7 linked regions of the Homo sapiens genome follow. The protein of the gene in region 6 purifies or fractionates together with the protein of the main gene of each other region. This does not show direct contact. Each region holds a gene or a part of one and is shown on either strand. Other genes may lie near its edges. The genes, in order: OCIAD1, ACTR2, PDK1, PCYOX1, ACTR3, BLVRA and MAP2K1.

Region 1 (4,249 bases), on a different chromosome or scaffold from region 6:
ATACCTAGGCCCCAAAGAACAGCCACATTAGGCTGGCTAGACTTCAGAATTGCAAGCCAAGCCTTTCCTTTTCTCTTTTTGAATGGGAATCTCCAGAGTAGTGATGTTATGCCTAACAGGTGAACAAAGCAGATAAGTTCTTAAGTTCAGGCCTTCAGACAGAGAAATGGTATTCATGACGCTTTTATTCATGAAGCTTTACCCAAGGAGCCTCATCCATACCTTATCCTGATTAGATGATCAGCTCCTAGACTTTGAGCTTTTGTAATGGCATAGGAAACAGAGGTCCTCAGGAAAGGGATGTGAATTACAGCTGCCAAATGATAGACTGAAAGATGGCTGCGGTATCTCCCATCCCATGTGTTCTTTCTAAAATGTGACTAGGTGGGGGTCTATTGGTCCAGGTTCCTAACGTCCACTATAAAATGGTGTAGTATTTACATATAACCAATGCACATCCTCCTATATACTTTAAGTCATTTATAGATTACTTGTAATGCCTAATGTAAATGCTATGTAAATAGTTATTACAATGTATTGTTTGGGAATAACAAGAGTTCAGTACAGACAACCATCCATTTCTCTCCCTCAAATATTTTCAATCTGCAGTTGATTGAATCTGCAGATACGGAACCCACAGATACGAAGGGTCACTGTACACCAATTTTTCTTTTTAACATAATATCAGTCTCTGTGATGTATACCAAATTTTTATTGTTTTAGAATTTACAAATTCTTTAAAAATGCTTTTTAAGGCATTTACCTATTTACTATATTATCAATTTATCTACATAAATCACATTCATTATATTTTTATTTTTTTAGACACAGGGTCTCACTCAGTCGCACAGGCTGGAGTTCAGTGGTGTGACCACAGCTCACTGCAACCCAGAACCACTGGGTTCAACTGATCCTCCCAACTCAGCCTCTTAAGTAACTAGGACTACAGGCACACGACACCATCGCCAGCTAATTTTTATTTTTTTGTAAAGACAGGGTCTCGCTTTGTTGCCCAGGCTGGTCTCAAACTCCTGGACTCATGCAATCCTCCCACTTCGGCCTCCCAAAGTGCTGGGATTACAGGCATGAACCACTGCCCACTGCCTCCAGCCATATTATAGATTTATAGCCATATTATAGCCATATTATAGAAATATTATAGATGACTTTATTTCCTATACCTACATGATTATAACTAGCTTAAAAATAAATCAATAAATTACAAACAATAAAACCATAAAATCAAGGAAGATGAGGGCTGTTGCATGTTCCTTTACATTTTATTTGCCATAAACATTAAGATAATACAGAAAATACTGGAGAAAAAAAGCTTTTTAATAATTTCTTGATGCAAAGCTTCACACTTAAAAATTATGCTTGCTCCCCCCATCCACCCCAATTCAACATGCAGATATCATTTATTTTCTTATATGCTGATTCTAGAGCATTGTAATCTCGACGGTTTTTTAAGAGTTATCTTTGCCCTTGCAACAATTTCACAAACTGTATACAATCATGGTATAATACCATCATTCAAATGAATCCCTAAGGTGAGTACATTTACACAATATTAACACTAAAAATCTGTGTTTTTTTAAAACACCATAGAAGTCAAACCACAAAAACCCAGGATCTTGTTTTAAATGTGTTTATGAAGACTGCTGCTGAGCTCAAAGCATGCAGGTAATCATGACCACCTAGATGAAGCTGGATGTTGAAACTCCTTCATGTCCAATGATGTAATTTTTCACTCATCCCAAGTATCTCCATACTTGTTTACTTTGACTAGGAAAAAAGCATAAATAATTGATGATTCCAAGCAATAATAAGTAAAAGACATTATTTTAAGTTTGTTGCTATGATGAAAAGTTATGTTTCTCTCTCATTTGAATAAAAGCACATGAGAGTCAAATTATAATTACAAAAAGGGGATGACCAGACTTTTGTGAACTTGGGGTTGGACAAATGCATTGTATCTAGAATTTTACATAAATAGTTAGTCCTCATAACAAACTTCTAAACACAATTCTCATTTTAATGGTGAGAAAAAAGATTAGTAACTTGCCCAAGGTACAAGCCCTAACAAGAACTGAGATTTGAGTATAGGTCTGTTTAGATCCAAAGCCTAGGTACCTTTACATCTTTACCATACTACCTAAGTGTGGCACATATTAAGCCATATACAAAAAAAAAAAAAAATAGTGGGAAATAATAAAACAAACATTTGAATTTTCGTTTTTCACAAAAAATACAGCAGTAGAAATGGTCAAGTGTTCAAGTTGTAATTAATTCAATCTTCTCTCTCAGGGCTGTAAATACTACTATAAGAAGAAAATACTACTACATTTTACAGGTACTCTATATTTTACATTTTAAAACATGCTCCGCTGTCTATTCTACTCCTTTACTTTTTTGCTTCTCTTCCACATAGCTTCTGTCTGTGAGTAATCATAACAATATAAAGCAGCAGTTATCACAGTGTGGACTCTTCAGGGAATACATGAAGTCAAAATTATTTCATTATTATACTAAGACATTATATATCCTTATGTTTCACATTTTGCCTTTTCCCCTTGCTCTCATTCCCTCATGAGTATATGTTACATGGTTTTCTAGAAGCTACAGGATGTGTGGTGACATTGCTCTGGCAGCTAATGGAATATGTGCTTGAATTTTTTAAATTTCTGGGTCTTAATTTCTAATTAGATAAATATCAACCACATAAGCTAAAGGTGAAAACTTTAAGTGACACTTTCTGACCATGTGAATCTACCCTGTACTAATTTCAACAATAATTCAGAAAATGACTGAAACTATTTCATAACAAGTCTTTTCTTTAAATTATATAAAGCACACAAAAAACCAGCTTTTCCCAAAAAAAGAAAAAATCATTTCACATTCTTGTGTCATGTAACAGAACTTGAAGACTTCAGTCAAAAATCAAAAATGTCAAAATCCAGCAAATGTTAAAGGTCTACCAAATTTCCTTTCTTAACCTCTATTACCATAGAAGCCTAAACCAAAATACTCAATTTCTGATACAGTGTAAAGTACTATGCTATGCAGACAATAATAGAAAAGATTACAAAAATGAGAAAAATATTACTTTCTGCCCTCACAGAGCTTACAATCTAAATCCTCAAATTAATTAGCAGGACAAAGTACCGACAAGTCTTTACATATTACAGAGCAATGGCCACTAGATGCAGTTTATGCTAAATGTTGTTTGATGACAAACATTCAAAAGTATGGTACATCCCTAATTCATTTCAAAGGTAGATTTTTTTTACATCAATAATATGATGCAGATATTATCTATCATTGTTATAAAAACAGAACTCCAAACGAAGCAACCGCTAATGATTAAAAATAAAATTAGCTCTAAAAAATGACCATAACAACAAATACTAAGGACTTTCATGTATTTTTGCATTCTTTGTGGCATATGACCTTCAAGAAGGTACCAAAGACCTATTATTTCCATTTTTAAAGTAGTAAATAGAAAATCTTGAAACAATGACACATACTCTGAAATTCCTTAAGAGAAAATCATAAAACCCTATACTGAAATAGCTATAAAACCCTATTCGAATGTCCTCTTCCTTTAGAGGTAAACTTGTATCAAAAAATTTACTTTGGCTAATGTATAGCTATTCCAAAAAGACTTAAAAGAAACCAGGATTTAAAAATTCATCTTTAAGAAATGCCTTAGAAGCTGGCATATAACTCTTTCAAATTCACAAATGTACAAGAAAGGTCAGGCACAGTGGCTCCCACCTATAATCCCAGCATTCTGGGAGGCCAAGGTGAAAGGACTGGTTGAGCCCAGGAGTTTGAGACCAGCCTTGGCAACATAGGGAAAAACCCACTGCACCAAAAAAAATTTTTAACAGCCAGGGATGGTGGCATACAACTGTAGTCCCAGCTACTCAGGAAGCTGAGGTAGGAGGACTGCTTGAACCCAGGAGGTCAAGACTGCAGTAAGCCATGATTACACCACTGCACTCCAGCCTGGGTGACAGAATAAAACCATCTCAAAAAGAAAAAACAAACAAACAGAACAAAAAAACACGAGAAAAACCCAAATGTACAAGAAAATCAATCTCATTACTCAATCATTCTGTGGTTAGGCCACAAGTGGTATTACAGCGCAACGCCAACCTCAGGTCACTACAGCAACTTATGCGATAGATGTATCATTAGGAAAATAAGACTATCAGATCTCCAAGGAGATTTGTTGTAAGAGAGA
Region 2 (4,249 bases), on a different chromosome or scaffold from region 6:
TATCTTTTGCTTAAATGACTGAAAAAGTCTCCAACTCTTCTATCTTTGCCTCCTTGTGGGATACTCACAACACAAGAGAAATCTAAATCTGAGCATCTCCTTTTCCTGTAACAGCCCCATATTTCACCCACAGTAAAAGCCCAATTCCCTTTTTTTCTTTTTGAGACTGAGTCTCACCCTGTCGCCCAGGCTGGAATGCAGTGGTGTAATCTCGGCTCACTGCAGCATCTGCCTCCTGGGTTCAAGCGATTCTCCTGCCCCAGCCTCCCAAGTAGCTGGGATTACAGGCACGCACCACTATGCCCAGTTAATTTTTGTATTTTTAGTAGAGATGGCGTTTCACTATGTTGGTCAGGCTGGTCTCGAACTCTTGACCTCGTGATCCGCCCACCTCGGCCTCCCAGAAGTGCTGGGATTACAGGCCTGAACCACCACTTCCAGCCGCCCAATTCCTAATTAGAGCCTACAAGGCACCAATATTACTTACTCGACCTCATCTTCTGTTGCTCTCTCCTCAACCACACTGGCTTCCTTGCTTATTCTTTAATATACCAAGCTTGTTCCTAACTTAAGACCTTTACACTGGCTACTCCCTTTATCTGGAATACCATTCTCCTATATACCCTGGCTAACTCACTTACCCTGTCTGTTTAAACATCACCTTCTCACAACCTATGTACAATTACAACCTCCCACTCCCCGTTAACCTGATTTATTTTGCCTTTAGCATCTACAGCTGATCCATGAATAACAACAAGTTTGAACCACACAGGTCCACTTATACACGATTTTTGTCAATAAATCTTTCCTGCCTCCCCTTGCACCTCTTCTGTCTCTGCCACCCGAGACAGCAAGACCAACCCCTCCTCTTCTTCGTCGGTGTGAAGACAATGACGATGAAGATCTTTATGATGATCTACATCCACTTAAGGTATAGTAAATGTATTTTCTCTTATGATTTTTTATTTTTTTTTGAGACGGAGTCTCGCTCTGTCGCCCAGGCTGGAGTGCAGTGGCACGATCTCCACTCACTGCAAGCTCTGCCTCAAGGGTTCACGTCATTCTCCTGCCTCAGCCTCCTGAGTAGCTGGGACTACAGGCACCCGCCACCACGCCCGGCTAATTTTTTGTATTTTTAGTAGAGACGGAGTTTCACTGTGTTAGCCAGGATGGTCTCGATCTCCTGACCTTGTGATCTGCCCGCCTCCGCCTCCCAAAGTGCTGAGATTACAGGCGTGAGCCACCGCGCCCGGCCATGATTTTCTTAACAGTATTTCCTCTAGCTTACTTTATTGTTAAGAATATAGTATATAATACATATTATGTTATCAGTAAGGCTTCTGGTCAACAGTAGGCTATTAGAAGTTAAGTATTTTGGGTGGTAGTTAAGTTTGCACGTGAGTAGGGAGGGTTGGTGCCCCTAACCCCTGCATTGCTCATGGGTCAACTGGATCACTCACCTTCTAACAAACCATTTAATTAACTCTGTAACTGCTTATTGTATTAGCCTTTTCAGTCTCCTTCTGCTGGCTCCTCCATAAAAACTTAATTAACTTAATTAACTCACTAAATTAAAAACTTAATTTTTTTGGTCTGTTTTTCCCTGTTAGAATATATACACTCCATGGCAGTAGGATTTTTTGTTTACTGATCTATCCTACTTTCCTACTTAGAATAATGACTAGCATATAGTAGATACTTAATAAGATCTGAAGGAAAACAATTATTTTTATTCTCTTTATCCATAGCAACAGTAAGAAAATTTTTGATTTAACATAATATCACAGAAATACACATATGCATATCCTGCATAAAAACTCACCTCTACAATCTTCTCTCTGTTTTTGGTTGGGTTCATAGGAGGTTCTGTGAGTAAGATTTTACAATTTCTGGTATCTATATTAAGTTTCTCTGGTCCAAATGTGTAGTCCCACAGGTGTTTCATGTCATCCCAATTTCGTACTATGCCATTTTCCATAGGGTAGTTAACTTCTAACATTGATCGTAATTCACTTGCCTCATCACCAACCATAAGATCCTAGAAAATTATGTCAAAGCTGTAGATCAAAGTTTTGCATAATATTTAAGAAAACTTGGGAATAATTAATTTTAATATTTCTGACACTTGCAAAATAAATCTTTTTATTCCACAAGTTAGAAAATCTTTTCTATCAAGAACAATGTCTTAGAAAGTTTAATCATGGATAATACATTTTTACATACAATGTGGTTTAAATCAATAAATTGACCTTACCTTTAACACAAATGTTTCCAAAAGAAGAGCATTAGCACAAATAAACCCCACATTTTCATATTTTGGAGGGTTTTGTATGAGGTTTCATCTGTTTCTTTTGCTCAATTGTTCAAAAAATAAGGCCTGTGATATGTGAAATAGCACATCAGGGGGAAAAAAACTTGTAGAAAAATGCTCAATGCATGCAGCACATTTCTTTGCACTAAATATCAAAATGATAAATGTAAGTACTATAAAGCATAATGAAAGAAGCAAAAAATAAAATGATTCTTTATTACTCTATAATAATGCATACATACACCAACTAATAAATAGCACAAACTTCTATCTACATATGCCTGAATAAGAATTTAAACTGTTTCTACATATGCCTCACCAAGGTGAATGAGAATTTGTAGAGTTATAAAAAATTAAGATATAGGCAAATAACCCATCCTTTAAAATTGTCTCCTGAGCAACATTTTCAATCTTAAAGTATACTGGAAAACTACACCATCACACATGAAGCATAATACTCACAAGTCTTGTCTCCAATGAGAGCATACTTAAGATGACCCACATTTGAAAGTCACATTTTCTATATATAATAAGTAAGGATGTCCTAGCATTTAGACTTATTTTTAGAGAACAGCTAGTCAAGAGGTTAAATAATACTAATTTCTACATATGTTGATAAATTCAATTAAAAAAACTAGTATCAGAAGTAGATATTTGCTACAATACGTTAAGTTTTAATTATGGAGAGACAAAAAAAAGCAGCAGCAAAATTAACACGAGATTATTTTTTTGAGACTGAGTCTCGCTCTACTGCCCAGGCTAGAGCGCAGTGGCATGATCTCAGCTCACTACAACCTCTGCCTCCCAGGTTCAAGCGATTCTCCTGCCTCAGCCTCCTGAGTAGCTGGGATTACAGGCACCTGCCACCACGCCTGGCTAATTTTTGTATTTTTAGTAGAGATGGGGTTTCACCATGTTGGCCAAGCTGGTCTCAAACTCCTGACCTCAAGTAATTCACCCATCTCGGCCTCCCAAAGTGTTGGGATTACAGGCATGAGCCACCACACCTGGCCAACATGAGATGTTTTAAAACAAAGGCTTAAAAATATATGAGTTTTAAATTAAAAAAAAAAGAAAAAGAAAATATCAGAGATGAAACCAAGGTGAGGACTCTAACAAAAAACCAAACAGATCTCTGGAAAATCCACTAAAAGCATCAAAAAGTATAACAAAGTTAAAAACAGATGCTAGAAATGCTCAGTAAAAATTTGTTGCAATTTCTTATGAAGTTCATTTACCATAACTTACTAACTTATTACTCAAATATCTGAAATATTAAATGTTTACACTCTTTTTTTTTTTTTTTTTTGAGATGGGGTCTCACTCTGTCACCCAAGCTGGAGTGCAGTGGTGCCATTATTGCTTACCACAGCCTCAACCTCCCCAGGCTCAGGTGATCCTCCCACCTTAGCCTCCCAAGTAGCTGGGACTACAGGCTACATGCCCAGCTAATTCTTGTATTTTTAGTAGAGACAGGGTTTCACCATGTTGCCCAGGCTGGTCTTGAACTCCTGGGCTCAAGGGATCCGCCCACCTCAGCCTCCCAAAGTGCTAGGATTATAGGCATGAATCACCACACCCAACCGTTTAGATTCTTCTATGAGGAATATGCAAAACTAAAAATCTGTATTTGTGAATTCTAGTTAATAACATGCACATGTTGAAGTATTCAGGGAGAAGTATACTGGTATCTGCAACTTACTTTGAAATCCATCAAAAAACAAGATGCACTGATGAATGAACAGATGAACAGATATGTAATAAATCAGTATGATATATATTAATGTCAGAATCCAGGTGATGGATATACAAGTTTCATTGTAAAATCATTTCAATATTGCTACATTTTCTTAATACTGCTTAATAAAATGTTAGGGGGGAAATCTATACCTGTAATTATATATACCATTTTTGTTACTAACTTTACGTCTTTTTTGT
Region 3 (4,249 bases), on a different chromosome or scaffold from region 6:
ACCTCTCTGAGCCTCAGTTTCCTTTTCTGTAAAACAAGAATACTGTCCAGGATTGTTTATGACTATTGGGAATAACATACTAAGTGTCCAGTACAGTGGCAACGTATTACATATAGGTGCTCAATAGAGTTATCTTTATGTTTTTATAAAACAATATTTAGAAGAGTGATTCTCAACTTGCTACCCTCAAAGGACCAGAATTCTTTTTTTGGTCTGGCTTTTCTTGGGAGGGGGAGGTCATTTATATTGACTTACAGGGTTTCTGCTGTAATCTTTGCTCTTTACAACAAAATTTGAAAACAAATTATGCTACTAATATTGAGAGTATCTTTTTTCCCCGCCAATAATACTTGCTGGTTGACAAGAAAATGGGTGAGGAGTGAGGGGCACAGGTCCTGGTGGGTGAAAATGATTGCCCTCTATCAGAAGCTTGTAGTCTCTCTTCAGTTGTGTTTCATCAGCCAGCAGCAAACTAGAGGAAAGAGGGGGTGGCTTTCAATCTGATAATGTAAAGGAAAAGTGCACTGAAACACAGAAAAACTGACCGAATATCTTAGAACAGCAGCAGAATGTTCTTTCTTCCAAGACAGCAAAAATGTATTTAATACCTTACAAAATCTTTTTTAAAATATTTATTTTATTTTTTGTAGAGTTGAGGTCTCACTCTGTTACCCAGGCTGTCCTTGAACTCCTGGCCTCAAGCAGTCCTGCCCCAGAGTGTTGGGATTACAGGCATAAACCACTGCACCTAGCCCTAAAATCTTTTTATCCAAGTAGTTAAACAAGTAGTGATGGGCACTTCAAGCATTAACACGAATTTTTTCCTTGAAATTCCAGTGGCATAAAGATCTTGTGCCCTATGATTGAGGCACTCCGTATTATATTGTACATAATGTCAGTAATAATGGCTTTCACCTGGAACCTAATCTTAACCTGCCTTTGGTGGAAATGATGGAATCTCCTCCATAAGAGGACTCAATCGCAATTGCTGTGCCAGGGCCACACACTCTTACTTCCAAATTCGGATGCCTTTTTAGTTACATCTAGTTTATATCATTTTCTACTGCAATGCTGAATGTCATGATATTGTTTAAGGCTTCTGATATGTTGGCACTGTGTACCCTATTTCCTTTAGAAATTAGTCAAAGCAGCTTTACAATGACAATACCCTTAATTTCAAACTAGAGATAAAGGGATTCATTGCTCCATCAAATACGACCATCGCTGTTACTACTATATGAAAAAAATTGCTTTCCTTTAAAGAAATTTATGACAGTTTTTTAAATAGTTCTAAAAATATAGCTGAAACTACATTTTCAAAAATGTTTTGCCCATCATTTACTAAAATTATAAAAGTGTTTGAACAGAGTTTTCTGCTTTAATGTAACTAGTTAAAAGTGTTTTGAAGTCTGACTTTGGAAAATAAGCAAAATTTAGTTGGAGTCTTTAGGTCAGAATATCCTTCAAATCCCCCCCAAATTGACTCCATTAAAAAAAAAACTTTAAATGTGGTTATAAGAATTGTGATTCTTTGGCATATTTCCATCAAATTTTAAAACTTCAAATAGTGCATATGTACTTGAAAATTACACTTTCTCTTTTCTAAAAAGCTGTATTTTTAATACAACCCTAATGTATTTCAGAATGCAATGAGAGCCACTATGGAACACCATGCCAACAGAGGTGTTTACCCCCCTATTCAAGTTCATGTCACGCTGGGTAATGAGGATTTGACTGTGAAGGTAAATGTGTTTAATGGTTTGTTTTCTTTTTTTTTTTTTTGTAATTGATGAACAGACATGCAAAGGTAACCATACGCATAATTTCTAAAAGACATAATCTACTCTCAGGGGAAAAGAATCTTGTCTGTAATAGATAATAAGCACATTGCTTCATTGAGCTGGTGGATTATAGTTATCCCTTGAGTCTTTTCTATGCAGGTCCCCCGTCGAGGTGATTCAAGTTAAAATAAATCTTGGAGACAGACAATTTATCATTAATATCTCTTTGATAAGTAAGATCTAAAATATTTGGGTAGTTGCAGTATTATGGAGATAGTATTTTATATATAATTTAAAAAATTTTAAAACAGTGCTTTCTAATCTACTGGTTTCATTTGATTCTCATGACGTAGGTAATTTTATCCTCACTTTTACAGGTGTGGAGACTAAGACACAGTGATTAGCTCAGGATCACACAGGGCAGAAATGCTATGGGACATGATATCCAGTCTTCTGTCCCCAGTGCTAGGCCTTTTCTATTACATTGTTCAGGTGGCCCAGTTTCTTCTTTTACATTTTATTAAAAATTGTTTTCTGTCACCCAGGCTGGAGTGCAGTGGTGTGATCATCACTCACTGTGACCTTGAACTCCTGGGCTCAAGCAATCCTCCTCCCATGGCTTCCAGAGTAACTGGGACTGCAGGCTGCAGGCATGCAAGCCTGGCTAATTAAAAGAATTTTTTGGTGGGTAGAGACTAGGTCTCACTTTGTTGCCCAGGCTGATCTCAAAACACCTGGCCTCAAGTGATCCTCCCACCTTGGCCTCCCAAAGCACTAGTATTACAGGTGTGAGCCACTGTGCATGGCTCCAGTTTAAGAGTATGATAGTGTTTTTCTTTTTTAATAATCATTTAAAAATTTATATTAAAGTAATAAATGCAGAGACTATAAAAATTCAAATGTGTCAGTTCCTGGCCCTTTGTAGGCCTCATTACTCAGAGATTCTTAGTCTTTCTTTACTTTTTTTTTTTTTTTTTTTTTTTTTTGAGATGGAGTCTTGCTCTGTTGCCCCAGGGTGGAATGCGGTAGTGTGATCTCGCCCACTGCAACCTCTGCCTCCTGAGTTCAAGTGATTCACCTGCCTCAGCCTCCCGAGTAGCTGGGATAACAGGCACCCGCCACCACGCCTAGCTAATTTTTTGTATTTTAGTAGAGACAGGGTTTCACCATATTGGCCAGGCTGGTCTCGAACTCGACCTCGTGTTATCCGCCTGCCTCGGCCTCCCGAAGTGCTGGGATTACAGGCATGAGCTACTGCACCTGGCCTAATGTTTACATTTTAAACAGTAAATATTACCTTTCTGTTATAGTAGTTGAGGAGTTAGCTCTCTTTAATAGAGCACCTGCTCCCCTCCCCTCCCCTAGCCCAAGGGCCAGTTTCCCTATACTATTATCCCAATATTTAAGTTTGTATATGAAATTCGAAGCTGAGAATAATCATCCTGCAAAATTTTGAAGGCATCCATTGTTCCTTTTTTAAAAAAGGTACAATTCAGTGGAATTCATAAGGTTATTCAAGTATTGCCGCTGTCTCATTTTAGAACATTTTCATCAGTCCTAAGAAAAAACCCAAGTACTCCGTCAGGCACAGCAGCTCATGCCTGTAATCCCAGCACTTTGGGAGGCCAAGTTGGGCAGATTGCCTGAGGTAAGGCGTTTAAGACCAGCCTGGCCAACATGGTGAAACCCCATCTCTACAAAAAATACAAAAAATTAGCTGGGTGTGGTGGCAGGCGCCTGTAATCCCAGCTATTCAGGAGGCTGAGGCACGAGAATCGCTTGAACCCAGCAGCAGAGGGTGCGGTGAGCCAAGATTGCACCACTGCACTCCAGCCTGGGTGACAGATTGAGACTCCATCTGAAAAAAAGAAAAAAAGGAAAATACGCAGTACCTATGAAGTCACTTCCCGTTTTTCTCTCTTCTAGCCCTTGGCAACCACTGATCTATTTTCTGTTTGTGTATTTCTCTTTCTGGGCATTTTATATAAATTTAATCATGCAGTATGTGGTCTTTTGTTACTGACTTCTTTCACTTAGTATAATGTTATAGTATGCATTTGTACTTCATTCCTTTTTATGACCAAATGATATTCTGTTATATGGATATAACACCTTTGGGTTATCCATTCATCAGTTGATAGACATTTGGTTTGTTTCTATTTTTTGGTTATTATAAATAATATGGCTATGAATGTTTGTGTACAAATTATTGTGTGAACATGTGTTTCAGTTATCTTATGTATATACCTAGGAATTGAATTGCTGAATCATAGGAAACTCTGTTTAACTTGAGAAACTGCCAAACTGTTTTCCAAAGGACCTGCACCATTTTGCATTGTCATCAACAATGTGTGAAGGTTCCTGTTTTACCTCGTCCTTGTCAACAATTGTAGTCTGTCTTTTTTATTATAGACATTATTGTGAGTGTGAAGTGGTATCTCAGTGTGGTTTTTATTTGCATTTGTCTA
Region 4 (4,249 bases), on a different chromosome or scaffold from region 6:
TAGAGATGAGGTTTGGCCATGTTGCCCAGGCTGGTCTTGAATTCCTGGGCTCGAGTGTTCCACTCACCTGGGCCTCCCAAAGTGTTGGGATTACGGTTGTGAGCTCCTGTTCCCAGCCTTGTTTTTTTTTTTATCTGTGGCTTGCTTGAGATGTAGAGAATTGCCCTTTGAGAAATTAAGAAATTACTTTTTTTTTTTTGAGATGAGTTTCACTCTGTCACCCAGGCTGGAGTGCAGTGGTGCAATCTCGGCTCACTGCAACCTCTGCCTCCTGAGTCCAAGCGATTCTCCTGCCTCAGCCTCCTGAGTAGCTGGGATTACAGGCATGTGCCACCATACCCAGATAATTTTTTTATTTTTAGTAGAGATGGGGTTTTACCATGTTGGCTAGGCTGGTCTCAAACTCCTGGCCTTAATTGATCTGCCCGCCTTGGCCTCCTAAAGTGCTGCGATTACAGGCATGAGCCACCGCACCTGGCCTAAGAAATCACTTTTGAAGTGAATTCAAGGTATTACAGAACTGGGAAAAAGAACCAGTGAGGGGATACATAGGTTATACTGTTTTTGACTTTAAAAAATAATTTACGGGCCGGGCGCGGTGGCACACGCCTGTAATCCCAGCACTTTGGGAGGCCAAGGCAGATAGATCTTGAGGTCAGGAGTTCGAGACCAGCCTGGCCAACATGGTGAAACTCCGCCTTGCTAAAAATACAAAAATTAGCTGGGTGTGGAGGCGCAGCTAATGCCAGCTACTTGGGAGGCTGAGGCAGTAGAATCGCTTGAACCCAGGAAGCGGAGGTTGTGGTGAGCCAAGATCAAAGTATACACAAGGTGGAGAAAGACCTATGTAACAGTAGTAAACCATGACACTCGAAAGAGGGCTCAAGCTTGTGGTAGGCAATACTCGAAAACAGTGCATTCATTCATTCTCTGCTGTTGGAGGTACTTGAGTGGAAATCCTGCAGCCCCTGACATCAGCACTAGCTAGCTTAATTTCCACTTCTGCACATACATTTATGTAGTTGTTCTGGTTGGATGCCATTCTTAACTAATTTTTTTTTTTTTTTTTTTTTTGAGACCAAGTCTTGCTCCGTCACCCAGGCTGGAGTACGGTGGTGCAATCACAGCTCACTGCAGCTTTGACCTCCTGGTCTCAAGTCATCTTCCAGCCTCAGCTGGGACTATAGGCATGTGCCATCATGCTTGGCTAATTTTTTAAATTTTTGTAGAGACAGGGTGTTGCCATGTTGCCCAAGCTGATCTTGAACTCCTGGGCTCAAGTGATCCTCCCACCTTGGCCTCCCAAAGTGTTGGGATTACAGGCGTGAGCCACCGCGCTCAGCCGGATGCCATTCTTTACTCCCAAGTCCAACCTCTTATCTCACTTTTTCAGCAAAGCATTTCCTTAATGCTTCAATCAACATTCATCTTTCTTTTCAAACATCCCTTATTATACGGTGCACACTGTGTGCTTGTGTTCTATGCTACGCACAGTAACTAGAATGTAGTAGATGTTTACTCAGATGTTTGTGGAATTTAAATCTCTGGTCTGCTGATGGCTTCCTGTTGAGATATCTTGGCTTGTAGACTAGGTTAAAGCTTATTCTTCTCTCTCAAGTTAGTGCATTTCTGGGGACTTGTAAGATCCTTAACACTTCTTGATCTGAGACTGATAGACTCACAGGGAAAGGCTTTATAAACACCCTTTCTTCCTTCCAGTTACTCCTACCAAATATTTTGAGTCAATTTTTGTTCTTTCATTTCCCAAACCCACTCTATCTTGAATCCCATCAGCCTTTAAAATACATCCAGTATTCCACTACTTCTCTCCAGGATTACTGCTACCACTTTGTTCCAAGTCACCACCACTGTCTCTTGTCTGGATTGCTAGAGTAGCCTCCTATTATAGGCTGAATAATCCTCTCCCCTGCTGTCTGCCACAAGATGTCCATGTCTTAATTCCTGGAACCTGTGAATGTGTTACCTTTTGAGGTAAAAGAGACGTTGCAGATATGGTTAAGGATGGGTAGATTATTCTGGATTATCTAGGTGGGCCCAATATAATCACAAGGGTCCTTAGAGAGGCAGGAGGATCAGGGTAGGTAGTAGGAGATGTGATGATGGAAGGAAGAGATTGGAGTGATGCTAGGAAGGGGTGTGCGTCCACGAGCCAAGGAATGCAGGTGGCCTGTAGAGGCTGGAAAAGACAGTCTTCCCTCAGAGCTTCTAGAAGGAACCAGCCTTGTGCACACCTTGATTTTAGCCCGGAGAGACTGACTTTGGTCTTCTAATTTACAGAACCGTAAGATTATAACTTTTTTTTTTTTTGTTAGTATTTATTAATCATTCTTGGGTGTTCTTCGGAGAGGGGGATTTGGCAGGGTCATAGGACAATAGTGGAGGGAAGGTCAGCGGATAAACATGTGAACAAAGGTCTCTGGTTTTCCTAGGCAGAGGGCCCTGCCGCCTTCCGCAGTGTTTGTGTCCCTGGGTACTTGAGATTAGGGAGTGGTGATGACTCTTAACGAGTATGCTGCCTTCAAGCATCTGTTTAACAAAGCACATCTTGCACCGCCCTTAATCCATTTAACCCTTAGTGGACACAGCACATGTTTCAGAGAGCATGGGGTTGGGGGTAAGGTCATAGATAAACAGCATTCCAAGGCAGAAGAATTTCTCTTACTACAGAACAAAATGGAGTCTCCTATGTCCACCTCTTTCTACACAGACACAGTAACAATCCGATCTCTCCTTCCTTTCCCCACATTTCCCCCACTTCTATTCGACAAAACTGCCATCGTCATCATGGCCCGTTCTCAATGAGCTATTGGGTACACCTCCCAGACGGGGTGGCGGCTGGGCAGAGGGGCTCCTCACTTCCCAGACAGGGCGGCTGCTGGGCGGAGGGGCTCCTCACTTCTCAGAGAGGGCGGCTGGTCAGAGAGGCTCCTCACCTCCCAGACGGGATGGCGGCGGGGCAGAGACACTCCTCAGTTCCCAGACGGCGTCGCGGCCGGGCAGAGGCGCTCTTCACATCTCAGACGGGGCGGCGGGGCAGAGGCGCTCCCCACATCCCAGACGATGGGCAGCCGGGCAGAGACGCTCCTCACTTCCTAGACGGGATGACGGCCGGGAAGAGGCGCTCCTCACTTCCCAGACTGGGCGGCCGGGCAGAGGAGTTCCTCACATCCCAGACGATGGGCGGCCAGGCAAAGACACTCCTCACTTCCTAGACGGGGTGGCGGCTGGGCAGAGGCTGCAATCTCAGCACTTTTGGGAGGTCAAGGCAGGCGGCTGGGAGGTGGAGGTTGTAGCGAGCCGAGATCACGCCACTGCACTCCAGCCTGGGCAACATTGAGCACTGAGTGAGCGACACTCCGTCTGCAATCCTGGCACCTCGGGAGGCCGAGGCTGGCAGATCACTCATGGTCAGGAACTGGAGACCAGCCCGGCCAACACGGTGAAACCCCGTCTCCACCAAAAAATACGAAAACCAGTCAGGCGTGGCGGCGCGCGCCTGCAATCCCAGGCACTTGGCAGGCTGAAGCAGGAGAATCAGGCAGGGAGGTTGCAGTGAGTCGAGATGGCAGCAGTACAGTCCAGCCTTGGCTCGGCATCAGAGGGAGACCGTGGAGAGGGAGAGGGGGAGGGGGAGGGGGAGAGGGAGAGCTGTTTTTTGTTTTGAGACAGAGTCTTGCTCTGTCACCCAGGCTGGAGTGCAGTGGCACAATCTTGGCTCACTGCAGCCTCCGCCTCCTGGGTTCAAGCAGTTCTCTGCCTCAGCCTCCCGAGTAGTTGGGATCACAGGCGCCCACCACCATGCCCGGCTAATTTTTGTATTTTTAGTAGAGATGGGGTTTCACCATCTTGGCCAGGCAGGTCTTGCACTCCTGACCTCGTGATCCACCCGCCTCAGCCTCCCAAAGTGCTGGGATTACAGGTGTGAGCCACTGCACCCGGCCGTAAATTTGTGTTGTTTTAAGCCACTAAGTTTGTGGTAATTTGTTATAGCAGCAGTGGAAAACCAAGACACCTCCTAAATCATCTGCCATTACTGTTATATTGCTACCATTTGTTCTCAGGTTAGCAGCCAAAGTAGTTCTTTAAAATCTAAGGCTCATCACATCACTCCACTAACTCAGAAACCTTCAGTGGCTATTTCATTAATAGAGATTTATAGCCAAAATCTGTTTTGTGACTGAGAAGACATGACAGGATTCTGTGCTCTCATCCCTTACTTTTAAATTTG
Region 5 (4,249 bases), on a different chromosome or scaffold from region 6:
TTCTCTATAGTTTTCCTTTGATCTCTGTGTCTGTCTTTCTACTTGTAAATTTAATGCATTTTAAATAAAATGTTTGAAATAAATTACTTCTCATTTAAAAATTGTCAAGAAAGTTATCAAAATAATCTGATATTATCTATTTAAAATGTTATTTATTTCAATAGACTGAACCTCCATTGAATACTCCAGAAAACAGGGAATATACTGCTGAAATAATGTTTGAGTCCTTCAATGTTCCAGGCTTGTACATTGCTGTGCAGGTAAGCAAGTTCATACTTTCTAAGTTTGATTCTTACATTTTAACCTAGTTTAATTTGCTGCCTAAAATACGTACTTTTTTTTTTTTTCTGCAAAGGTTTAAACATAATGTCAAAGCATGTTATACTTCTCTCCTGAATTGTTAATTTAGAAGTAATATTATGGGAAGTGGAGATATTTAGTCAGGAAAAGAGAAGTGTTAAAAAAGTAAGTTAGTGGTGTTTGGGTATTTCAAGGGCTTTCATAGGACAGAAATGAAGGAACTAATATTTATGGAATGCTTTCTCTGTGACAAGAACATTGTATATATATTTATCCTTGTAAATAATCCTTTATCATTTATCCTTATAAATCTTTTTGTCCTTTATTGTAGTCTTTTTTGATTGACTTATCTTTAGGTATATTTGACACCCTAATATTTCACTTCTCTTAATTTGTACGTTTATCTGTATGGAACAGCTTCTCTCCCACCCCTCAGGATCAGAGCTGACCTCATTTTTTTTTTTTTTCCCTTGTAGCAGAGGTAATCCCTGACATAACACAAATGCTTTATATGTGTATTAATTCATTATTTCTATTAAATGTAGATATTTTTGTTTCTGTTTTTTGTGGAGGAAGAAAACTAAAGCTGGAAGGCACTTTATTCATAATTAAATGGTTAGCTGTGATACCAGGCAGCTGAGGTCTGTCTGACTTTGCTCTTTCTTGGGATCACACTGGTTTTTGTAACTCCACGGTACACAGAATCAATAAGTGATAATTATGGATGAATATTTTAACTTGGATAGCAAAGAACTTTTTAATGTTTAATGCAATCCATAAATTTAATGAACTGCCTTTTAAATTCTCTGCTGCTAAAAATATTTAAGGAGTCACTTAAACCTGTCATGAACTTTATAGAAGAATTCAGTCTTGAGTGGGAGGCCCTTTTTTAGTTCTTAGAATATGAATAAAATGAGGAGTTGGGAAAATTCATCTTTCACTTGGGAGTTTTTGCTTCTCATCCTATGTTAAATATAATAAACTTATGTTTAACCATATTGTCAGGTAAAGCTTACTTTAAAACACTGGCATCATGAGCTTTGTTTCATTCCTCTGGAGTCGTAATTTGGTTTTTCAGTGATTTCCTTAGTGGCCTCTGAGTGCTCTTAATTTCATTATTTAATCTCTGTTCTGTTTTGTTGATGTTCAGTAGTCAATAACATTTCTGTAACATGATGTGCTGATACATATCTATTCTAGTTTGGGACCGTAACTGTTTACAAAAGACTTGTAAAAGTGATCAGAGATAATTCTTGGTTGTAGATGATAGTTTTGAACTTACTTATAGAGGAAGGATATCTCATAATGAAGTCTAAACAGTATATATATATATAACTAGTATTAGGATGGAATTTTTCATTTTAAGATTGTCAAAAAATAATGTATAGTTCTGTTAGCCTATAGTGATTATGTGGTGATTGTGTTAATATGATCTTGTGTTCAGATAGGAGGGTGACCTAGATAGCTTTCTAGGTCCCTTTTAGCTATTACAGTCCAGGTAGGTAAAATAAGTCCAGTATAAGTTTAGTTGTTTTTAATTACTAGTCATATACTTTGTTTGAGGCTTGGATTGTAAGAAATTTAGTTTTTTAAAAAATGAACTATGTTAATTTCTTAATTCTCACACTTAAAAAAGAATTGTGTTGTATTGTCTGTACCAAGGTTTTTCATAGAAAAATTTTATCAACGTTGCTCCATAATTAAATCATAGTAGTATTTGGAGGTGTGCGATGGCGTTTTCTGTATGTCATATAGTCCTAAACACATGTTACCTTAAAAAAATTTGAAGGTAGGCCTGGCACAGTGGCTCATGCCTATAATCCCAGCACTTTGGCAGGCTGAGGCAGGTGAATCACAAGGTCAGGAGTTCAAGATCAGCCTGGCTGAGATGGTGAAACCCCGTCTCTACTGAAAATACAAAAATTAGCCGGGTGTGGTGGTGGGCACCTGTAATCCCAGCTACTCCGGAGGCTGAGGCAGAGAATTGCTTGAACCCAAGAGGCGGAGATTGCGGTGAGCCGAGATCGTGCCACTGCATTCCAGCCTGGGTGACAGAAAGAAACTCTGTCTCAAAGAAAAAAAGAAAAAGAAGGTAATCTTTTAGTAATAGTTGTTTATAGCCATATATGTATTGAATAACTGGAGGTAGGGTGGTTGTGTACTTTCTGCCTTACATTGCAGTTTGTAACAGGCCAGCCCACGTGGACATAGTTTAAGTTCTGGCAAGTTAGTTCTATACAATTTTTTTTTTTTTTTTTTTTGAGATGGAGTCTTGCTCTGTCGCTCAGTCTGGAGTACAGTGGCATGATCTCGGCTCATTGCAAGCTCCGCCTCCCGGGTTCACGCCATTCTCCTGCCTCAGCCTCCTGAGTAGCTGGGACTACAGGCGCCCGCCACCGCACCTGGCTAAGTTTTTGTATTTTTTAGTAGAGACGGGGTTTCCCCGTGTTAGCCAGGAAGGTCTCGATCTCCTGACCTCGTGATCTGCCCGCCTCGGCCTCCCAAAGTGCTGGGATTACAGACAGTTAGTTCTGTACTGTTTAATGCAATCTTCCACATTTTTAGCTTTAGGACAGAAATAGCCTTTATAAAATATGTAAATCTTACAAATCATGCTCCTAAAAGCAAATGTAAACCTCTAAGTTTGTCTTAATAAAATGTAGGGAGTGAGCTATTTTATTGCATAATACAAAATTAATTTTATGTATTTTCTTTCCACAGATACTACATTTAAAATTGAATAAAGTACTCCAGGGAACTAGTTTTTTTTTTTTCGATTAACTCTTTGTTTTTTTGTTTTTTTTTTTTGTTTTTTTGCCTTTCTTCTTTCTTTGTGCTCAAGGCTGTTCTTGCCTTAGCTGCATCTTGGACCTCAAGACAAGTAGGAGAACGGACGTTGACCGGTACGGTAATAGACAGTGGAGATGGTGTCACTCATGTCATTCCTGTGGTAAGGCTATTTTACAGTTACTGAACAGAACATGAAATAACACATCTGGCAAAGTTAAATTATACGAATTAATGTTACTTTTAAAAAACTTTAAATGCTGCACTATAATTTGGCCATTTGTCCAGTTATAGCTATGTTTTGCTCACCGTTTAAAACTTTTATAAACAATTCAAAATGTTTCTTTTACTGTAGGTTTGTACTGCAATTAAGAAAATTACAAATTGCAATATCTGGAATGGAAGTATATTAATGGCTTTCATTCTGTTTTCCAGTTGGATGTGTGTTAGCCATTTGATGACCTCTTTTATTCATAATTAACAGATTTCAGACTGGTGTACAGGGTAACTGTATAACAGTTAGTTTTAAGTACCTGAACTTTAGTAGATGCTTTATGGTTTGTACTTAATAAAGCATATTAAGAAAAATGCATCAAATTAGATTGTCAGAAATAACATTTTTCTTCCAAGGCCGTTGTGCTTCAGTTCTTAATGATACATCAAGTTTTAAAAAAATTATGCCTAATGAATTCAAAATGACTACTAGAATTCATACTGTTTATTATTAAATGGGTATATAGAGAAAGGTTTATCTTTTAAAGTAATTTTTATATTATAATGAATATCACTTAAGGATTTACATTATTTTGAACTTTTTTTTTTTTTTATTCTCACTCCAGTGTTTAATGCATCAGGCAATGTCTGTTAAAGATTACATCCTCAGGGTGACTACCTTTGGATTAGACTCCTGGTCCTCCACCACTTTCACCCTCATGATATGTCATAATGGTTTTAGTAATAACTGCCATTGTTTAACGATAGCTTAAGATAAAATTCATATACCATACAATTCACTTCTTTAGAGTGTACAGTTCATTGATTTTTAGTATATTCACAAAGTCCATCCGTCCCCACAATTTTAGAACATTTTCATCACCCTACAAAGGAACCCTGTAACTATTAACAGTCACCACCCATTTCCCCTTGATTCCTTCAGCCCCTG
Region 6 (4,249 bases):
GGCTGAGATCCTTTCCAGACGTCTTGGCTTCTGGGCAAGTTCTGGAGAATCTCTCGCTTCAATATTGAATTGTATAACAACAGTACAAGGTCTAGGAGAAAAGAAATGGAAGTGTACTGTTGTCAGGTTCTTTATAGTATATGTGGAATAGTGCATAATATTACTTTAAAGTAGACTGTGGTAAGTAAAATATATAATATAAAATCCTTAACTTCTGAAAAAGAGTTATAGCTAATAGCCAACAAATGGGATAAAATGGAATCATAATAAATATTCTAATTAATCCAAAATAAGGCAGGAAAAGAGGGGAAAAAGAACAGATTGAACAAATAGCAGGATTTCTATAGAATTTGAATGGAAACCCAACCATATCAATAATCACAATGTAAATTGTCTAAACGTTTCAACTAAAAGGCAGAGATTGTTAGACTGAGTAAAAAAAAGCAAGACCTAACTATATGCTGCCTATAAGAAACTAACTATAGCTATGAAAACACATATAGATTAAATGTGAAAGGTTGGGGAAAAAATGTATTATGCAACACTGATCAACAGAAATTGGGAATGGATTGTTAATATCAGACAAAATAAATTATAGGGCAAAAAATATTACCAGGAATAAAAATGGTCATTTTAGAAAGATAAAGGGGTCAATTAAAAAAAAGGACATAACCATCCTAAACTTGTATGTATCTAATAACAGAGTTTTGAAATATGTGGGTCAAAACTGATAGAACTGAAAGGAGAAATACACAGTTATATACAATTATATTCAGAGATTTCTCTACCCTCAATAATTGCTAGAGCAAGGAGACAGAAAATCAGGAAGGATACGAAGACCTGAACAACACAATCAACCAACTTGATCTAACAGACTTATAGAACACTCCACCCAACAATAGCAGAATACACATTCTTTTCAAGTGTGCCCAGAACATTAACCAAGGTAGACCACATCCCGTATCATAAAATATCTCAATAAATCTAAAAGGATTCAAATCATTTAAAGAATGTTCTCTGACCACAGTGGGATTAAATGAGAAATCAATAATAGAAAAACATTTGGCAAATCCCCAAACATTTGGAAGAAATCCTGGAAGGAGAAGACAAGAGCAGTGGGCACAGGAAGAGGGGCAGAGTCAGTGGGAAGTGGTGACAACTGGGTACAGAGGTGAAGAAAAGGGGCAAATCTGAGATGACATTCATGTTTCTATGCTCAGAGGCATCCAAGAAGTGAGTTTAAGGGATGCATGGAGATAATTTTTTTTTTTTTGAGATAGAGTCTCACTCTGTCACCCAGGCTGGAGTGCAGTGGCGCTATCTTGGGTCACTGCAATCTCCGCCTCCCAGGTTCAAGCAATTCTCCTGCCTCGGCCTCCTAAGTAGCTGGGATTACAGGCGCCTGCCAACAGGCCCAGCTAATTTTTGTATTTTTAGTAGAGACGAGGTTTCTCCATGTTGGCCAGGCTGGTCTGGAACTCCTGACCTCAAGTGATCCACCTGCCTCGGCCTCCCAAAGTGCTGGGATTACAGGCGTGAGCCACCGTGCCCAGTGCATGGAGATAAATTTTATCAGTTTTTATTATACTGAGTTGCTGTATAACTTAAAAGTCAGTTTGATTTTTCACTGTAATACTGTTCACATACAGCCTCCAGCAGTGCACTTAAATAATATTTAAGATACTGCAGTATCTTAAATGTGGAACTCAGAAGGCTGTAGTGAAGAGTCAAAGCCTCTGGATCCCACGCTGAGTAAGGTGACCAATCATGGTTTGCCCATTTGCCTCCTCTGCCAGCATCTGATGAAGAAGCTGTGCCCTCTGAATGACTCCCAGTAGTATCAGATTCATGTGTCCACTGGAGGAGGGACCCAGGGAGGGCAGAAGTACCAGGCCATGGGCTGGGTCTGGGTTAATGGGGAAAGCTCCCTCATTATTGGAGATGGGGCAGTAGAAGTGGAGAGCCAAATTGGGGGAACACTTTCTGTGGGTACTCGGAAGGTTTTCAACCTAAAGACATGGTGGAGCACCTTCAAGAACAGGTTTTGGCGGGACTGACTTCTCTCCAAGCCCCCATTTCGGGGACTGTCTCATCCCATCCTGATGCTGTGGCTTCCTGTGTGTTTTGGGCTGGCTTCCATCTTGCTCGTCGGGACCCTGCCAGCTCCTTTGTTTTGTAGTTTTCTGCTCGATGCCTACAGTGTTTTCAGACTCCACCTTGGTCCCTTGTGTTTCAGCCCGAGAGGAAGTTTGGCGTGGTGGTGGTTGGTGTTGGCCGAGCCGGCTCCGTGCGGATGAGGGACTTGCGGAATCCACACCCTTCCTCAGCGTTCCTGAACCTGATTGGCTTCGTGTCGAGGTGGCTCACAATGTCTTTGTGCTTCATAATTCATGGAAAGCCCAGTGAGGCGGATTAGCTGCAGGACATGGAGATTTTCCAGACCCAGGGCAGGGAGAGCCATCTCCCAACTGAGAACTGTGCTTAGGGTCAGCCCCATAAGATCTCAGGTTGGGATGGGTCTGGGAACTGAAGCTTGCTGGGCCTGCAGCTGGGATGCACAGTAGGTTGGCCTGGGAGACTGGAAGACAGAGGCAGGAGGGTGAGCTCAAGGCTGACAGTTAGAGAAGGGGCACAGAAAACACATGCATGGGGCTTTGGCCTGAAAGGCTTTCGGTGTGCACCGGGGAATCCTGACATAGTCATCATGACAGCCATCCTAGGTGGTCCTGGGCTCTACATGTGATATTTCCTTCTGCGTAGTGTTATTAACCCCCCAGTTTACAGATAAGGAGGCTGAACCACAGAAAGGTTAAGTAATCTGCCTGAGGTCACACAGCTGGAAAGTCTAAGAACTGAAGTTGAGCAGAAGTCTGTTTCCAAAGCCCATCTTTTAAACACCATGTGTTCTTTTGCCATTGGTAATTTTGAGCCTCACTTTTATTATTATTATTATTTTTTTTGAGACAGAGTCTCACTCTGTCACCCAAGCTGCAGCGCAATGGTGCAATCACAGCGCACTGCAGCCTTGACCGTCTGGGCTCAAGTGATCCTCCCGCCTCACAGCTCAAGTGGTCCTCCTGCCTCAGCCTTCTGAGTAGCTGGGACTACAGACACACACACCACCACGCCTGGATAATTTTTTTTTTTTTTTTGTAGAGACAGGGTCTCCCTATGTTGCCTAGACTGGTCTCAAACTCCTGGGGTCAAGTGATCCTCCTGCCTCGGCCTCCCAAAGTGCTGAGATTATAGGCGTGAGCCAGTGCACCCAGCCTCCCCCTTTTCTTTAAGGATTCATTTATCTCCAGTCAAAATCAAACTTATCACCTTGTTTCTTCTTCCCCCATGCTCAAATTTTCCACTCACCCCTGTACACACACACACACACACGCACCACTCACCAGACTAATCCTGTATAACATCATTTGTCAATATTAATTGTGAACTAGATACAGGCACCAGACTAATCCTGTGTAACATCATTTATCCATATTAATTTTGGACTAGGTGCAGGCACTGGGCTGGGCCTGAAGACATGGTAGTGAGCAAGTTAGGCAACTCTTTTTCTAGTGCTTTAGAGACATCAGATAAATATTTACACAAAGCATAAGTAACAATTGTGATAGTCTATGTAGAAATTTTTTCATGTTTTCATTCATGGGGCCATCCTCTTCCGGCCTGTCTCAAAACATGGCCCCACTTTTAAGGATTTAAAATGGGCTTGGAAGCACCAGGGAGACCCAGAAGTGCTAGAATCTGCCCTTGGGCCAGCCTTCTCCTCCCCATAAGATTCCAAGGGAGCTGCACACAAATGGGAGAGCAAAGTTAAGATCAGGCAGCACCGTAACCCCCATCGCACCCCTATCTGGAGCTGGGACCACACACAGCACTTGGGCGCAAGGCTGAAATGGGACCTTTCCTTTTCCCTTAAGCCCCAGTCCTCTGCCAGTTGGCTTCCAGGGTCAGCTCAGTGGGAACACCTACACTACCCAGGTTGTATGGGAGGATGGCCAGGTCACACCCCTGCATGACAGCCCTGCCAGTACTCACACTGTTTCCCTCTTCACATACCCTTCCCTTCCTGACCTACCTGCTAAGTTCTACCTCCTCCCCAGGAAGCTTTTCTGGTGTATTCCTTTCCCACCCTGAGTCTCCATCTCCTACTTCCAAGCACCACATTTCTCCTGGTAGTCTTGTGGTAGTGGTATGTACGTGTGTGTGTGTGTGTGTGTGTGTGTGTCTTCCTCTAGCT
Region 7 (3,500 bases), on a different chromosome or scaffold from region 6:
GGAGTTCAAGACCAGCCTGGCCAACATGGTGAAACCCTGCCTCTACTAAAAATACAAAAATTAGCTGGGAGTGGTGGTGTGCGCCTATAATCATAGCTACTTGGGAGGCTGAGGCAGGAGAATCGCTTGAACCCAGGAGGCAGAGGTTGCAGTGAGCCGAGATCACGCCATTGCACTCCAGCTTGGGCAACAAGAGCAAAACTCTGTCTCAAAAAAAGAAAAAAGAACTATTATAACTAAGTAGGGAGTGATGTAACTGAGCATGGCATGGAGTTGCTCAGAAAAGACTACACACATTGGAGATAAGCTTTATGTAAGATCTTGAAAGATCGGTACCATCCGGGGCAGATACGGTGTCTCACGCCTGTAATCCCAGCACCTTGTGGGGCTGAGGCAGGCATATCACCTGAGGTCAGGAGTTCGAGACCAGCCTGACCAACATGGTGAAATCCTGTCTCTACTAAAAATAAAAAAATTAGCCGGCCATGGTGGTGTGTGCCTGTTATCATAGCTACTTGGGAGGCCGAGGCAGGAAAATGTGGGAGGCGGAGGTGGCCGTGAGCCAAGATCATGCCACTGCACTCCAGCCTGGATGAGAAGAGTGAAACTCCATCTCAAAAAAACAAAAGGGCCGGGCACGGTGACTCACACCTGTAATCCCAGCACTTTGGGAGGCCGAGGAGGGCGGATCACGACATCGAGGCCATCATTTTTAAATTTTGTACTAAAAATACAAAAATTAGCCAGATGTGGTGGCGCATACCTGTAGCCCAGCTACTTGGGAGGCTGAGGCAGGAGAATCGCTTGAACCCGGGAGGCATAGGTTGCACTGAGGCGAGATCGCGCCACTGCACTCCAGTCTGGGGACAGAGTGAGACTCATCTCCAAAAACAAAACAAAACAAAAAAGATGGGTACCATTTATTTTATTCTAGGCCCCACAGCAGACGGTGGAGAAATACCAGTACACAAGACAATCACAGTCCCTGTTTTCACAGAAGTTAAAGTGTAGTGGCAAGTATAAAACAAAAATAAAAACATGCAAGAGGGCCAGGCGCCTGTAATCCCAGCAGTTTGGGAGGCTGAGGCAGTGGATCACCTGAGGTCAGGGGTTCGAGACCAGGCTGGGCAACATGGTGAGACGCCGTCTCTACTAAAAATAACAAGAATTAGCCCGGCGTGGTGGTGTGCGCCTGTAATCCCAGCTACTCGGGAGGCTGAGGCACGATACTCACTTGAGCCCAGTGGGCAGAGGTTGCAGTGAGCCAAGATCATGTGACTGCACACTCTAGCCTGGGTGACAGAGTGAGACTCCGTCTCAAAAAAAAAAAAAAAAAAATCATGCAAGAAAGTGGAGGAGGGCATTTCAGACAAAAAAAAAAACCATGTCAGCAAGACCAGACAGATGTAAGAAGGTAAGCAACAGTATGCTGGTGGCACAGTGAGGAGAGTAAAGAAAGTGGTAAGTGGACCACAGCAGGTGAACGGAAAAACAGAGGAAAATTAAGCTAGATAGGCAAGGCAGGGCCAACAGCTACAGGAGTACCCACTTAAATGTAGTTTTGCTTTGACAATTCCAGTTACCCACAGTGAGTACAGTAACCACATTCATGTAACTGTCATTACAATATATTGTTATAATTCTTTTTTATTGGTTATTATTGTTAATCTCTTACTATGCCTAATTTATAAATTAAACTTCATCATAGGCATATACTGCATAGGAAAAAACACAGTATATGCAGGGTTTGGTACTATTGATATCTGTGGTTTCAGGCATCCACTAGGGGTCTTGGAACATATGCCACTCAGATAAGGGAGGACTACTGTACTCTACCACAGTATCTTCTTCCTTTCTTTGAAAGGTGCATAAATAAGTGAAACTGGAATTCTGTGAGTGTTTATATTCAAACAAGAGTCCCATATATTTCCTTGCCATGGGCTAAATCATCTTTAAGACTTTCTTTGCTATTACTGTATCTGCTGTAACAGCGGCAGAGATGTTCTTCCCAAAGACACAGGCTTAAGCAGGCCTTTTTCACATGAAGCTGTTCTGAAAGACAGCACCAGTATTAGTTACTGCATCAACTACCCAAAAGAAGCATCCAAGTTCAAAACTACAAAATCAGTGTGAAACCACTTCAAAAGCTCCTACTTATCAGGCCAGACATGGTGGCTCATGCCTGTAAACCCAGCACTTTTGGGAGGCCAAGGAGGGAGGATTGCATGAGGCAAGGAGTTTGAGCCCAGCCTGGGCAATACAGCAAGACCCTATCTCTAAATTTTAAAATTAGCCAGGCATGGTGGTACATGCCGGTAGTACTAGCTACTTAGGAGGCTGAAGCAGGAGGATTCCCTGAACCCAGGAGTTCAAGGTTATAGTGAGCACCAATGCACTCCAGCCTGAGTGTCTGAGCAAGACCCTGTCTCTCAAAAAAAAAAAAAAAAAAAAAGTTCCTGGTTATCATCATGGTACACATCTCAGAAAGAGCCATAAGAGACAAAAAAAAGCACATCAACCTGTCTCAACCTTTCTTCCTCCAGGGCCTTCACACTCTAACAGATGTGTGTTCCTTACAAACCTGGCAGAACTGCTGATGCTATGAACTACACCCTGAATGCAATAAGTAAGTCTGAGTGTTTCAGGGTTACATAGAAACAATTCAAAATCCAAAATCATGAACGCTACTAAGGCCAAGCAGTGAACCCTCCTAAGGTTATTCGGCACCTTATAGCCTTCAAAGAAATTTTATACATCTTCAAAGGTATTCCTCTGAGGTAGGATCTAGTCAATCATTTAATCAACAGGTATCTACTGAGTATTTTCTATGTGCCAGAATCTGTTCTACACACTGAGCAATGAACAAGGCAAAGCCCCAACCATCATGAAGCTTACACTTGGGGTGGCAGAAGAAGATAAATACTTATACACGATGTAACATCAGTTAGTGATCAGCGCTACAAAGAAAAATAAGGCAAAATCAAAGGGTAGAAAATGACAGGGAGTTCTGTATTACAGTGATCAAAGATGGCCTCTGTGAAGAGACATTTCAACAGAGGGGTGAAGGAAGTGAGGAAGCAAGTCATACGGTATTTGAGAGACAAGCTTTCCAGGCAGCAGGAATGGCAAATGCAAAGATTCTAAGATAAGAATGTGCCCAACCTACAACCCAACAGCACAAAGGACAGTGTGGCTAGAGTGCATGAGTGAAGAGAACACTGGAAGAAAACTAAGGACCTGGTCAGGTAGGGCCTTGTAGGCCACCATGGTAAAGATTTTGTAAACAATTATCACCTCCACTTTACAGATTAAGGAAACCAAGAGTCAGAAAGTAGAAAGGACTTGCCCAAGGTCAAAGAAAAAGTGAGATCTTGAGAGGTACCCTGCCTCACTACTGCAACTGGATTAACGGTATTGTTTTAAAGAAAGAGATTAATAGCCGGTGCGGTGGTTCACACCTGTAATCCCAGCACTTTGGGAGGCCAAGGAGGGCAGATCAC

Evidence for each region.
Region 1: the proteins of BLVRA (region 6) and OCIAD1 purify together in Homo sapiens (affinity purification with mass spectrometry, with the first as the bait; one large-scale study listed by BioGRID). This does not show direct contact.
Region 2: the proteins of BLVRA (region 6) and ACTR2 fractionate together in Homo sapiens (co-fractionation; one large-scale study listed by BioGRID). This does not show direct contact.
Region 3: the proteins of BLVRA (region 6) and PDK1 purify together in Homo sapiens (affinity purification with western blotting, with the first as the bait; one study listed by BioGRID). This does not show direct contact.
Region 4: the proteins of BLVRA (region 6) and PCYOX1 purify together in Homo sapiens (affinity purification with mass spectrometry; 3 studies listed by BioGRID and IntAct, with this or other methods). This does not show direct contact.
Region 5: the proteins of BLVRA (region 6) and ACTR3 fractionate together in Homo sapiens (co-fractionation; one large-scale study listed by BioGRID). This does not show direct contact.
Region 7: the proteins of BLVRA (region 6) and MAP2K1 purify together in Homo sapiens (co-immunoprecipitation; one study listed by IntAct). This does not show direct contact.

What each region holds. Positions count from the first base shown.
Region 1 is NC_000004.12:48,858,261-48,862,509, reverse strand, and holds the end of OCIAD1 (OCIA domain-containing protein 1), read right to left. Parts: intron 2,354-4,249; exon of another isoform or gene 2,307-2,353; intron 1,786-2,306; coding exon 1,748-1,785; 3' UTR 695-1,747; downstream 1-694. UniProt on the Homo sapiens protein: Maintains stem cell potency. Increases STAT3 phosphorylation and controls ERK phosphorylation. May act as a scaffold, increasing STAT3 recruitment onto endosomes. Involved in integrin-mediated cancer cell adhesion and colony formation in ovarian cancer.
Region 2 is NC_000002.12:65,244,313-65,248,561, reverse strand, and holds part of ACTR2 (actin-related protein 2), read right to left. Parts: intron 2,039-4,249; coding exon 1,823-2,038; intron 1-1,822. UniProt on the Homo sapiens protein: ATP-binding component of the Arp2/3 complex, a multiprotein complex that mediates actin polymerization upon stimulation by nucleation-promoting factor (NPF).
Region 3 is NC_000002.12:172,569,083-172,573,331, forward strand, and holds part of PDK1 ([Pyruvate dehydrogenase (acetyl-transferring)] kinase isozyme 1, mitochondrial isoform 2 precursor), read left to right. Parts: intron 1-1,643; coding exon 1,644-1,742; intron 1,743-4,249. UniProt on the Homo sapiens protein: Kinase that plays a key role in regulation of glucose and fatty acid metabolism and homeostasis via phosphorylation of the pyruvate dehydrogenase subunits PDHA1 and PDHA2.
Region 4 is NC_000002.12:70,264,147-70,268,395, forward strand, and holds part of PCYOX1 (prenylcysteine oxidase 1 precursor), read left to right. Parts: intron 1-4,249. UniProt on the Homo sapiens protein: Prenylcysteine oxidase that cleaves the thioether bond of prenyl-L-cysteines, such as farnesylcysteine and geranylgeranylcysteine. Only active against free prenylcysteines and not prenylcysteine residues within prenylated proteins or peptides.
Region 5 is NC_000002.12:113,931,137-113,935,385, forward strand, and holds part of ACTR3 (actin-related protein 3), read left to right. Parts: intron 1-164; coding exon 165-260; intron 261-3,142; coding exon 3,143-3,250; intron 3,251-4,249. UniProt on the Homo sapiens protein: ATP-binding component of the Arp2/3 complex, a multiprotein complex that mediates actin polymerization upon stimulation by nucleation-promoting factor (NPF).
Region 6 is NC_000007.14:43,785,668-43,789,916, forward strand, and holds part of BLVRA (biliverdin reductase A), read left to right. Parts: intron 1-2,236; coding exon 2,237-2,358; intron 2,359-4,249. UniProt on the Homo sapiens protein: Reduces the gamma-methene bridge of the open tetrapyrrole, biliverdin IXalpha, to bilirubin with the concomitant oxidation of a NADH or NADPH cofactor. Does not reduce bilirubin IXbeta.
Region 7 is NC_000015.10:66,393,412-66,396,911, reverse strand, and holds part of MAP2K1 (dual specificity mitogen-activated protein kinase kinase 1), read right to left. Parts: intron 1-3,500. UniProt on the Homo sapiens protein: Dual specificity protein kinase which acts as an essential component of the MAP kinase signal transduction pathway.